Regions from separate parts of the Homo sapiens genome. Here region 1 is linked to region 2. Evidence: fine-mapped expression QTL. A gene starts in region 2. The other region holds a variant in brackets. All regions are shown on one strand. Distances are from middle to middle.

Region 1 (5,383 bases), 560 kb after region 2:
TGACAAAGATCAGTTAAATGACTCAACCAAGAATTCAAACTAAGGCTTTTCAACTGGGACCACTGCTGCTTCTACCCCAGGGGTCATGATAAACACCTGGGACAGCGAGGAGGCTCTGAGGTGTCCGAAAATTTACATCCATCTTCAAAACCAAAATTACCAGGGGCTCTTTCATTTTGATTTGATGAATAAAACATCTTGTGTCCTGAATGTTTCAGAAAATTGAGGAATGAGATATGGTTCTCTCAAACTTGGATGTGCATATGAATCACCTGGGGGATCCTATTAAAAAGCAGAATCTGACTCAGGAGGCCTGGGCTGGGACCTGAGATCCTGCATTGCTAACAGGCTCCCAGGTGATGCCAGTGCAGCTGGTTTATGGATCACACTTCCAGTAGCATGAGATGGCACCTCTGACTAATTTCTCTGCCTGTTCAGCATTAAGCTAATTGGCCATTATTGCCCTTTGCAATTCAGTAGTAGGAATTGTGGCTCTGACTTTGCTGTTGTGGGAGAAGATGCTGACACACAAGCTGGCAATGCTTAAGGAAAAATTTTATTGTGGATCGATAACCATAAAAATATTCATACCTTTTGGTCAAATAATTCTGCTTATGGATATGCATTCTAAATAAATAACCCAGAAGATGAAAAAAAAAAATCTGTGTGAACAACGGTGTTCTACCACAGCACTATGTATATTAAAAAAGAAAAAAATCTGTGTCTAATAAAAAGGAAACGATTAAGTAAATTGTAATAAAGTCACTCAATGCAACCAAGACAATATTGTAGACATATGTTCATCTTCTCCCTTTCCTCAAATGCAACATGTCACTAAAGGAACAAAAATGGCATGAACTCACAAGGTTAACAAACTATTAATAATTTCAACACATTTGTCCAAGATACAAAGTTTACGTAATTGGGGAACATAACCACAGGCCCCTATGTCTGTATTTGTTATTTTTTATTTTTTTAATTGGTCAGCGAGTACAAGGTATCAAAGTAAAATCTTACAATTTTTATACATTTCTGTATGCCTGAAATATTTCAAAATTTAATAAAAAAGAAAGTGCATAGGGACAGAGTAAAGAACATTCTAACCTACATGTTGGGGGCAGAAGTGATGTGACAAAGTGAGCCAGTTTTCGCAACAAAGCCTGGCCTTGGCTCTTGAAGGCACTAGGGACCATGGAAAGCAGGAATGAGGCATGGGGCTAACAGCAGAGGAATGGTCAAGTCTGTCACAGGAGACTTTGCACCCCTAGATCTCCTGCCCTACTAGGAAACAATCCTTCCCACCTACCACCACTGCAGGAGATGGGCAGTTTTTTCTTGAGAGAAATTGAGCCACATACGCTCAGATCTCAGACACATCAGATCTCATAAGAGGCCACCTGAAAATAAGAGAATTAATGGAAGCTCTACGCACTGAACTGTGGGGCCTGTAGGGATGGAAAGTGTGATACCTTTCCTCATCTACCATAAGGATTACGGCCAACACTGCTATAACAAAAGAGGTTAACAAGAGAAAAGCATAAATGCATTTATTTCATCAGTTTCACATGACACAGAAGCCTTCAGAAATGAAGACTCAAAGACCCAGGGAAAACTGTATTTGTGCTTAGGTTCCATGAAGAATGGGAAGCCTTGTAGAAATGTGATTGGACAAAAGGGTGTGATCTACTGGTAACAGACTGAGGGGAGGAAACCCAGCAAGGCCTGTCTGTTCAGATTCTTCTTAGTGTCTCTGAGTAGCATTCCTACCTCCCAGGTAGGACCTCTCTGGAATGAGGGTTTTCAAGGGAGAAGGGAGCGAGTGACCTTTCTAGGTTTTGTGGCTTGCTTTGCAGGAGAGGCATTCTAGTTTCTATGACCCACTTTGGCGAAAAAGAATTCTTGTTTCTATGACTTACGTCGGGGGAGAAAAAGGGATGGGAGACGGGGGCAGGAGAGAAGGTGAAAGCCTTGGCTTCTGAGGCCCTTCCATTCTCCTTTAGTTCAAAGTACTCAGCATGCCAACATACTATACTTTAGGGTATCATGTTCTGAGCCCCAACAGACCCTCAGCCCCTCCCCGACCCTGCTCTCAGGCCTCCAGGAGCCAGACATATATACCCACAGGCAAGAGACTGTCAAAGTACAACCTGTGGGCCAAACCATACTCCATTCTGTTTTTGCAAATAAAGTTTTATTAGAACACAGTCACACGCATTCATTTGCAAGCTGTCTATGGCTGCTTTTATGCCACAGCAGTAGAGCTGAGTAGTGGCAACAGACACCATCTGGCCCACAAAGCCTAAAATATTTACTATCTAGGCCCTGCAGAAAAAGCTTGCCAATGCCTGCCCTAGGGAAAAATAGACGCCCCAGAGGAAAGACTCCAGATCCCTCATTTGGAGCTCCCATTAAAATACTGGTAAACTTCCCTATGACAATGAAGCCCATCAGTGACAAGCCCCATCCACACGCCCACTGAGCCGCCAAGCAGGTTTCAGTACCTCAGTCTTAAGTACAAATGGATGTCCAAAGATTTTCCAGACACTCCAGGAAGGCTCAGCGTGAAAGAGTATAATCAAAATAAACCGACAGAAAAAAGGAACTTGGAAGAACCAAAATAATTCAACAACTGGAAGAAACTTACAATAAAAGTATAGAACTCATATTATCTGAGAAATGAGAAGGTATTTCATCCATAAAACAAGAACTAGACACTATGATAACCAAAAGTGAACTCTGAAACTTAGAAAGTAATGGCTCAAAATTAAAAAATAAATAAATAGTTAAAAGAGAGTTTAACAAAAAGACAAGGAGATGAAAAATGGGAGGGAAAATAAACAATTCAGGATGTCCAATATTGAACTG[GAA/G]AAAAAAATATAGGACAAGCAAACAAAGGAAACAAAGGGTTTAAAATTAGTGATGAATACTATAAAATTCCTGATAATTATTTTCTTATCTATCACACACTGTGCCCAGCATAGTAAATAACAACAACCAGCAAGGGCCATCATGAAATTGCAGAACACTCTAGCAATAAAGAGATGATTCTAAGTTGACAGAGAGAAAAGAAACTGAACCAAAGAACGAGAATCAAAATGGATCCAGGCTTCTCAATAGTAACACTGCATACCAGAAAAAAAAAAACATGGAGTGATGCCTACAAATTTCTAAAGGAAAGAGATTTTTCACCTAGTGTTCTATGTCTAGCACTATCAGTCAAGTATGGAGATAAAAGCATTTTTAGACTTGCAAGGATTCTCATGCATCCTTTATTACGAAACTACTAAAGGATGTGCTTCAACACAATCAGGGAGTAAAAGCAAGAGATAGACATGGAATCCAGGAAACATGGGCTTTTCAACACAGAAGTGAAGGAAGTCCCAAAAAGATCATTTTCCATCAAGTCTATAGAGCAAATGATCCAGTTTCGAGCAAGAAGACTAAAGACTTCAGGAAAGAGGATCTCTGGGAAACAAGAGGACAGAACTGCTCAATTATTTGATGTGTTTAAGGTATAAAAAAATGATTGCTAGATGTTTTACAGGTTTGTTAAAACACTTGCTTGGAAAAAGTAGTATGATATTTAGCTGAACAGCAAACAATTTTTATCTAGTTTAATAATGTTACACTGACCATTGATTTAACAAAAATTGTAACACAAATCTATTTGGAGGATCACGTAAGAAAAGGAGGGAGTTGAGGACTGGTGAATAGAAAGATAAATTCTTGTCTAAAATAAAAAAATCAGGAATAGATATAAAAGCGTATAATTTAGAAATATATAGGTAGCTTTTAGAAAAAACATAAGGTGGAAAGTAGATGCCTCTCTGAGAAGGGATGGGAGGAAAAAATAATTGCTTTTGCTTTTTTAGTATATATAATCATTTGGTACTATTTTATTATTCTAACTATTCACATACATTTTGATAAGAATAAAAATTAGTCTAAAATAAATTATATCAATCTATAAGATCAACATATCTATTAGATCATAATTATAACTAGAAAAGTTGCTTTTTTGGAAAAAAATGCAAATGTTTACTCCTTGTGGTCTGCTGATATTTAAAAGTCTTTATCATAAGAAAGTCCTTCCGTTGGGAATGCTGAGCTGGCAGTCTGGTGGAGCTGTAGTGTCTTTTGTGTGTTCCAGATGCCTCGAGAATCAGTCTTTGTGGGAGGGTGGAACACAAACAGTTTTGACCAGTGTATTAGTATCAGTAAGGCTAGCATAACCAGGGAGAGATGCACCAAGGTTCAGGTAAAGAATCAAGTGAGGAAAAGATATATAAAATGCATGTATATATCATGGCTGCAACAGTGCAAAAATGGTATGTTCGTTATAAGAAGGAAATAAGGACAAATGAAAACAGTTTGATGTGTCAGAAGTGGGAGCGGAAATAAATTTTTTCCTTTAATTTAGAATTATGTGAAGACTGCTATAATGTTTGTGTAAAACAGAATAAAGGGGTTTTCTAAGGAAATCAGTGGCATTCTTTGCTCTGCCTCCCTCCTGCAGTTTAATTGCCTACACGGAACAATATGTGGAATATGACCCTTTGATAACACCAGCTGAGCCATCCAACCCTTGGATCAGCGATGACGTTGCTTTGTGGGACATAGAGATGAGGTAAAAAATGTTTTAAGGTTTGGGAGTGGGATGAATGTAGACAAAAATCCATGAGATCATGAGATTACCTTATATTCTATCTTAATTTGACATTTTTTATCGCTAGAACAGAAACCCCTCAAGTAGCCTCCCAGCTGAGTTCTACTTACAGTTTCTACCTCCTTATAGCTTTGATTTGTGCATGGATCCTTTGTGGCTCCCCTCTGACCCTTTGGATACCATGATAACTGAGACAGTCCCTCACCATTCCCTAGTTCTGATTGCTGGAAGAAAAGAATCTGTTGTTCCAATTTTTTTTCCTGTTAGACAGCAACAATAATGATAATAGCTGGCACGTATTCTGCATTGGCCACATCCTGCAGTAAGTGTCTCTCACTGAATCCCCTCGACAGGTAAACATTACTATTCTCACCACTCAGCAGTTATGGAAACTGAGGCACAGAGGAGTTAATGAACTTGCCCAAGGTCATACTGCTAGTACAGCAGAGTTAGGACTAGAACTCAGGCAGAGGGCTCCAGAACCATGATTTCATCACTCTGTTCTTCTGGAGTAACTGCCAGCAACGATTCCAGCCAGTTTCTCCTTCCCTGTGAGGGAAGCCACTGTGTTTACTTAAGAGGGGAGGAACCAAAGCCCAGAGGGACTTGGACCACTTTCAGAATTACAGAAGGAAACACACAGACAAAGCTAGTGTGGTGTGCCTTCACACCCCCTGCACCTTGGCTGGATGAATTTTTATTTCCCTTTTCATGTCT
Region 2 (5,383 bases):
TACCAGTCGATTAAGATGATACCTCCCAAGTATTACAGCTGCATGTTAATAAGTATGCTGTACTTATTAATAATTAATGATGTATTAATGAACATTTTTAGAGATATGCTTTGAGACTATGTAAATATCCTGTTCCTCATCAAACTTTTACCCACCAATTTTAGCATTTATTGATGATTCTGGCCTGAATCAATTATTAAGATGGTGGTTGCCAAATGGTGGTTTTCTAATTCTATCTTTTCTTCTTCATTTATTAGTCGCATTCTACTATAGAGTTCCCTTCTCTGTTTCTATCAGCATGGACTCATGGACTCTTATTTTACTCAAAGGGTTAAATTTGTCATTAACTATTTTACTCCTTAAATAGTTCAAGATTTGGCCAACAGGAACCCCTTCAAGCTGACTTCTGTCTTCTTTTGACATGTCTCCATAATTCTTTAAGTATTTTCTCATTTCCTTGCACAACAAATTATTCTAGTTTCATCCACTATACCAAGGAACTGTGGTTCCTTTCAGTGGAGGATGGTATTAAGAAACCAAGGTCTGAGTGTTAGGTGTGTTCATTGCTACTGGGGTGCCATTGCTTTTAGGCCTTCTCAGTCGACAAACCTAGGAAATATATCACCATATACACACACATATACACTTATATTTTTCTGTCTATCTATCTATAATCTCTTTGGATCCAAAATCATTTTACACCTTCATCTCCAACTTCAAGGCACATAGCTAGATCTCTTGCCTTTCTGTATTGGTAATTCCCTTCTCCAGCAGTGAGATGACTGGCTCCAATTTTCTTAATGTATTTACTTCTTTGCTCAATTCCCTAGCACATAAACCAATCTCTTGGCCATGTCAGCAAAAAATGTGTCCTGTCTCTATTACATACATATATATATAAAATACCCCCCACATACATACACATACATATGAAATCAGATATTTTATGTATAAGAAACCATACTACATAGATATATCAGGAATCCCATATAATACACAAAATGTATCAATATGAAAATACATATCTAATTCCTATAAATATCTGATTTCACATATTTTTTTTTAAAGAGAAGTACACAGTAAGGCTTTCTTCTGATGAGCCTGGAGCCTGCTGTTTATACTTCCACAGTATTATTCCTTCATGCTGTACTTGGCCCTCAAGGAGCTGCTAGCCTCAGAAATGCAGAGTTCCCACTGGGTGTGGTGGCTCAAGTCTGTAATCCCAGCACTTTGGGTGGCCAAGGCGGGTGGATCATCTGAGGTCAGGAATTTGAGACCAGCTTGGCCAACATGGTGAAACCCCATCTCTACTGAAAACACACAAAAAATTAGCTGGCAGGCACCTGTAATCCCAGCTACTTGGGAGGCTGAGGCAGGAGAATCGCTTGAACCTGGGAGGCGGAGGTTGCAGTGAGCGAAGATTGCACCACCACACTCCAGCCTGGGCAACAAGAAGGAAACTACGTCTCAAAAAAAAAAAAAAAAAAAAAAAAAAAAAAAAAAAAAAAAGCAGAGCTCCTCAAAGCGGAAGTTTCCCTAGTTGCTACCTTTCGCTCCATGTACAGCCTATTCTTTAACTGTGACAAACGGCCACAGCCAGCTCCACAACCGGCTTGAGCCAAGTATTGAGCCTGAGGAAAGAAAGATTTTATATTTCAGCTTTAATAAACAACTGGGACATCTGTTACAATTCTATTTTCCTCACTAGGCTGGGTATGGTTTCTCTTGGTTGCAGGTTTCCCCCCACCCCCCGCCTTTCTGTGTACTAAGCCTACCATAACACACATGTCTGCTTGTGTGTTATCCCATTCGACGTGAAGGCTTCAGGGCAGAGACTGCTTCCTTTATTATCCATTTCTAATGTTAGAAGAGGGTCTAACACAGAGCAGGTGCTATTTGTCTATTGAAGGAAAGAATGAATACATCCATTAATCAATGTAGAATGGCGGGAAAAGACACAATTTGGGAAGGAGACTTTACTCTTTAACTTCTGGACCCATGTGAATGAGGAGTCCAGGTCATCCATCGTTAAAGGCATTTAGGTATTTTATTTCAAGTATTTTTCCCCTTTTCTGGTGACATACTACAATTCAGGACTAAATCTCAAATTTATTCTTGATATTGATAGCATTGATATTGCACACAAATCCCACGGTTACCGTCCAGCACTAGTGATCTTGTCCTATTTCCACCTGCAGCTTTTTGAATCTAAGTACACATCGCATTTCAAAACTCCCACGTTAAAGAAAGGCATCAGTTCAAGTTACTTTCTCATTTTCTGTCTTCGACTTTTTTCTGCTTCCCCCAAGAATATCTGAGAGTTACTTTTCTCGAAAGTTCTTTTGTAGTGTTCCAGATAGGAATCATCCTGTAATATTCCAAATGCAGCGTGTGGTGTGCATGTTGAATACATAAAAATGACGAGGTTAGGAACAATATCGCTGACGGTCGCGGTGTCCCGTTTTAATTTAGAGGGCGCCAGCAACACGTCAGTGAGGGAGATTCAGAAGCCGCCGGGCACCTCACCCCGGGCCGGGAATCCCTAAGAGAACCTTGACGCCGCTGAAGTTTCCGGACCGGGCCAGTTTGGAATTGACGAAAGCAGCCTCCGCCCGGTCGAGCCAGTCTCTCGGTTTTCTCGGCGGCTTCTTGAGGATGAGGCATTTCTAGGTTTTCTCCTCCTCGAGCAAATCACGGTCTGCGCCTTCCGCGGCTCTGGGAACAGGTGAGCCGTGCGGCGGCGCCCGCGGGACGCGCTCAGGTGCCGGTCCCCGCCCGCCGGCCCCTCCCTGCAGCACGCGGTCCGGGCCCAGGTGCCGGGGCCCAGGTGCCGGCGCCCAGGTGCGCGGGGCACGGGGCTGCAGCTCCGCTCGGCATCCGACAGCGGGCGCCGCTGCAGCAGCTCGCGGGCCGCGGAGCTGAACGGCTTCGCGAGTTGGGGCAGCTCCTCGCGCTCGGCCCTGCTCGGCGGCGAGAGCTCCGCCTGGGCGCCGCGTTCCTACAGCCGCCGGAGCCGCCAGGCGCCGAGGGAACGGACAGACCTCCGCGCACCCTTGCCGACCGGGGCGGGCAGAGGCGGGCAAGCGGCGAACGCCTGGGAGCGCGGAGAGCCAGGCCAGCCCGGAGCGCGCCGGGGACACCCTGTGCGCCCCGAGTCCCGGCACCATGCGACCCGCCGCGCGTCCTCGCGGGCCCGGGGCTTCGCTCTTCGCTCGCTGAGCCCCTGCGCTCGCCACCACGGAAACTCGGAAAGAGGAGGCGAGGCTGTGGGGAGCGGCGCGGAGACGGACTAGACTTCCCCTCCGCCCCCAAGAGGCTGCCGGTCCCCGGTTCCCTGGGCTTCTCCAGCTTTATCATGAACCTGGCGCAAGGTTGGCTTTAGGAAAAATTCTGGAGCCAGAGGGAGAGTCAAGGCAATTCTTTGGTTGCTAAGGTAATTGTAGTTGTGATAAAAAATGGGCAAGAAACAAATGGGGGAAAAACATGGTTTAAAACAGTATCCTCCCTCCCCACCCCATTAATATGTGTTGATTTCATCTCCTGGGTGTGGGTGCTTGTCCATTTCAGATGCGTGACAGGTGCCCGTGTGTGTGTGTCTGCAGTTTGGGACTGTGGAAGCACGAGCTTACATAAGTGGTTAGGCAAGCTGGCGTGTGGACTTGTGTGGGATGGGTGCAGGTCTGCATATAAATCATGTTCCTGGGTTTCTGGGTGTGAAGCGCACACCGACGGGGACGAGAGCGCAGAGGATGGCGCTTTTAGATACTTCCAGTCTTCCGATGTTGTGATCGCAGGTAGGGCAGCTTTGCCTCTAATCAGGCGTTCATTAACTTTTTCCCTGAACAAGCTCGCCCATTTGTGGTTTGGAAGAAAAGAAAGCGAGTCTCCGCGGTGAGGTGTGGAGGGCAGGGGCGGGTGGGGAGGTTTGTTGTTTGGGAACTGCGCTAGCAAAGGAAGCGGTGGCTATTCGCTTGGAGAGGATGACAAATGAACTGGTTGCGTGAGGAGTGAAGAGACCGTGTTTACAGTCACCAGCAGGCTGCGTAAAGAAGTGGCCCAGTGAGACAGGGAAAGTGACCCAGAAAATTTAGTTTTGTTCAGAATGAAAGCTGCTGTATTTCATTTTTGTTTCTTAATTTGACGGAGTAGGAACGTTATTTTCCTTCTCTGTCATTGAGACCAGTAGCATTTCTATGTTACAAACTGAAGATATTTGGGGTCTCGTCGGCTTGGGATTATCAATGCTTGGGAGGTGAGTTCTGATCAATACCTTTAACAACCCCAAAGAAAAACGCAAAAATAATCAAGTTTAGGTAAAACTTCCACTGGACTTTCTTTCCAGGGAGGGTGAGAGATGGAAGAACTGGGCTTGTAAGTATCAAAATGGAGTTAGAGAATGAGCTACAAGTTTGTGTGTGTATGGTCTGTCAAAAAGTGTTAAGACTGAAAGGAAACTGTTAGGTTTAGTTAAATGTGTTGACAACACGGCTCTTACATATCAATTTTCATAGGCAAATAGGTAATTACATAGAGTGGGAACTGGGACTATGGTGGGAAACTTTCTGTAAGATGTATATTCTTTATTCTTAATTTATCACTTTTTCAATGGGTGGGACTACTCTGTGAAGGAAAGTAGAGGGCTGAGGGACATTTGGTGAGACTCTTGAGAGAGAAACCTTTGCAAGCCAAATCTCGCATGCTATAGATGATAAATTCTAAGTTCTTTGATATTGTACCACTCTTAAGCTAAATTGTCCTGTAAATATGATCTCATGCACCATAAACTATATATATGTAGAGAGAGTCTATTCCCAATAACTCATCCTTTCCTGAAAGAGTCTGCAAGTTCTATAAATGTCAGCTGTTGGGAGGTATTGTGATGAAGGAGAGAGGCCACCAGTGTTTCCTTTTATATATTTATTCTGGCAGATCTTAACTTTACTTCTGATTTTCTTTAAGGAATTTCAGTTAACATTCACTGAATTTATATTGCTGAGAGTTTCAGTAAAACAAGACTAGATTTTCTTTGAAGCAATAAATTCATCTTATCAAGTGAAACATTATGACAATGCTTTTGTGGCAGAAATGTTTATTTAAATGAGTCCATTTTAATTATTTATTTATTTTTGACTTGCAGAATAAGATCTGCAACATAGATGTTTTTGAAGTAAGTAGACGTTTCTTGAGAAAGAAAAATAAATTTAGGTTACTGTGGACAATTTGCCAGTAATTTTGGATGTCTCTTTGTCTACAGGGACATAATTTTGTGTGAAAGTAGAATCATTCCATTTCTTATGTCTCTCATCTTCTCCCATGCATTTTATCCCCTGAACTCCTAAGACTTTGCCAGGAATTGCTGAACATTCTGTTTCGTGCCAGGGGT

Direction of the effects. Alleles are on the strand shown, and positions count from the first base shown. SD is a standard deviation of normalised expression in the study named.
For the expression in lymphoblastoid cells after a statin of the gene that starts at base 2,921 in region 2, G is the high allele of the variant in region 1 and GAA is the other (moderate effect, 0.61 SD a copy in CAP).

What was found.
Region 1: its variant is fine-mapped to the expression of RGS6 in lymphoblastoid cells after a statin (CAP, PIP 0.91). The same link has a PIP of 0.9 or more in lymphoblastoid cells.

The regions. Positions count from the first base shown.
Region 1 is chr14:72,490,636-72,496,018 of GRCh38, forward strand. RGS6 (regulator of G protein signaling 6) reads left to right here. Exons shown (of 18, transcript NM_001204424.2): 13 at 4,517-4,627. Among named protein-coding and RNA genes, the nearest start is that of MIR7843, 23 kb to the right of the region's middle. The variant GAA/G (reference allele first, on the strand shown) is at 2,866.
Region 2 is chr14:71,929,509-71,934,891 of GRCh38, forward strand. It overlaps RGS6 (regulator of G protein signaling 6), which reads left to right and starts at 2,921. Exons shown (of 18, transcript NM_001204424.2): 1 at 2,921-3,433. LOC124903404 (translation initiation factor IF-2-like) reads left to right here and starts at 2,418. Exons shown (of 2, transcript XM_047432046.1): 1 at 2,418-2,517; 2 at 2,661-3,382. The coding sequence starts at 2,418. The coding sequence ends at 3,382. RefSeq lists silencers at 2,710-2,989, 3,010-3,169.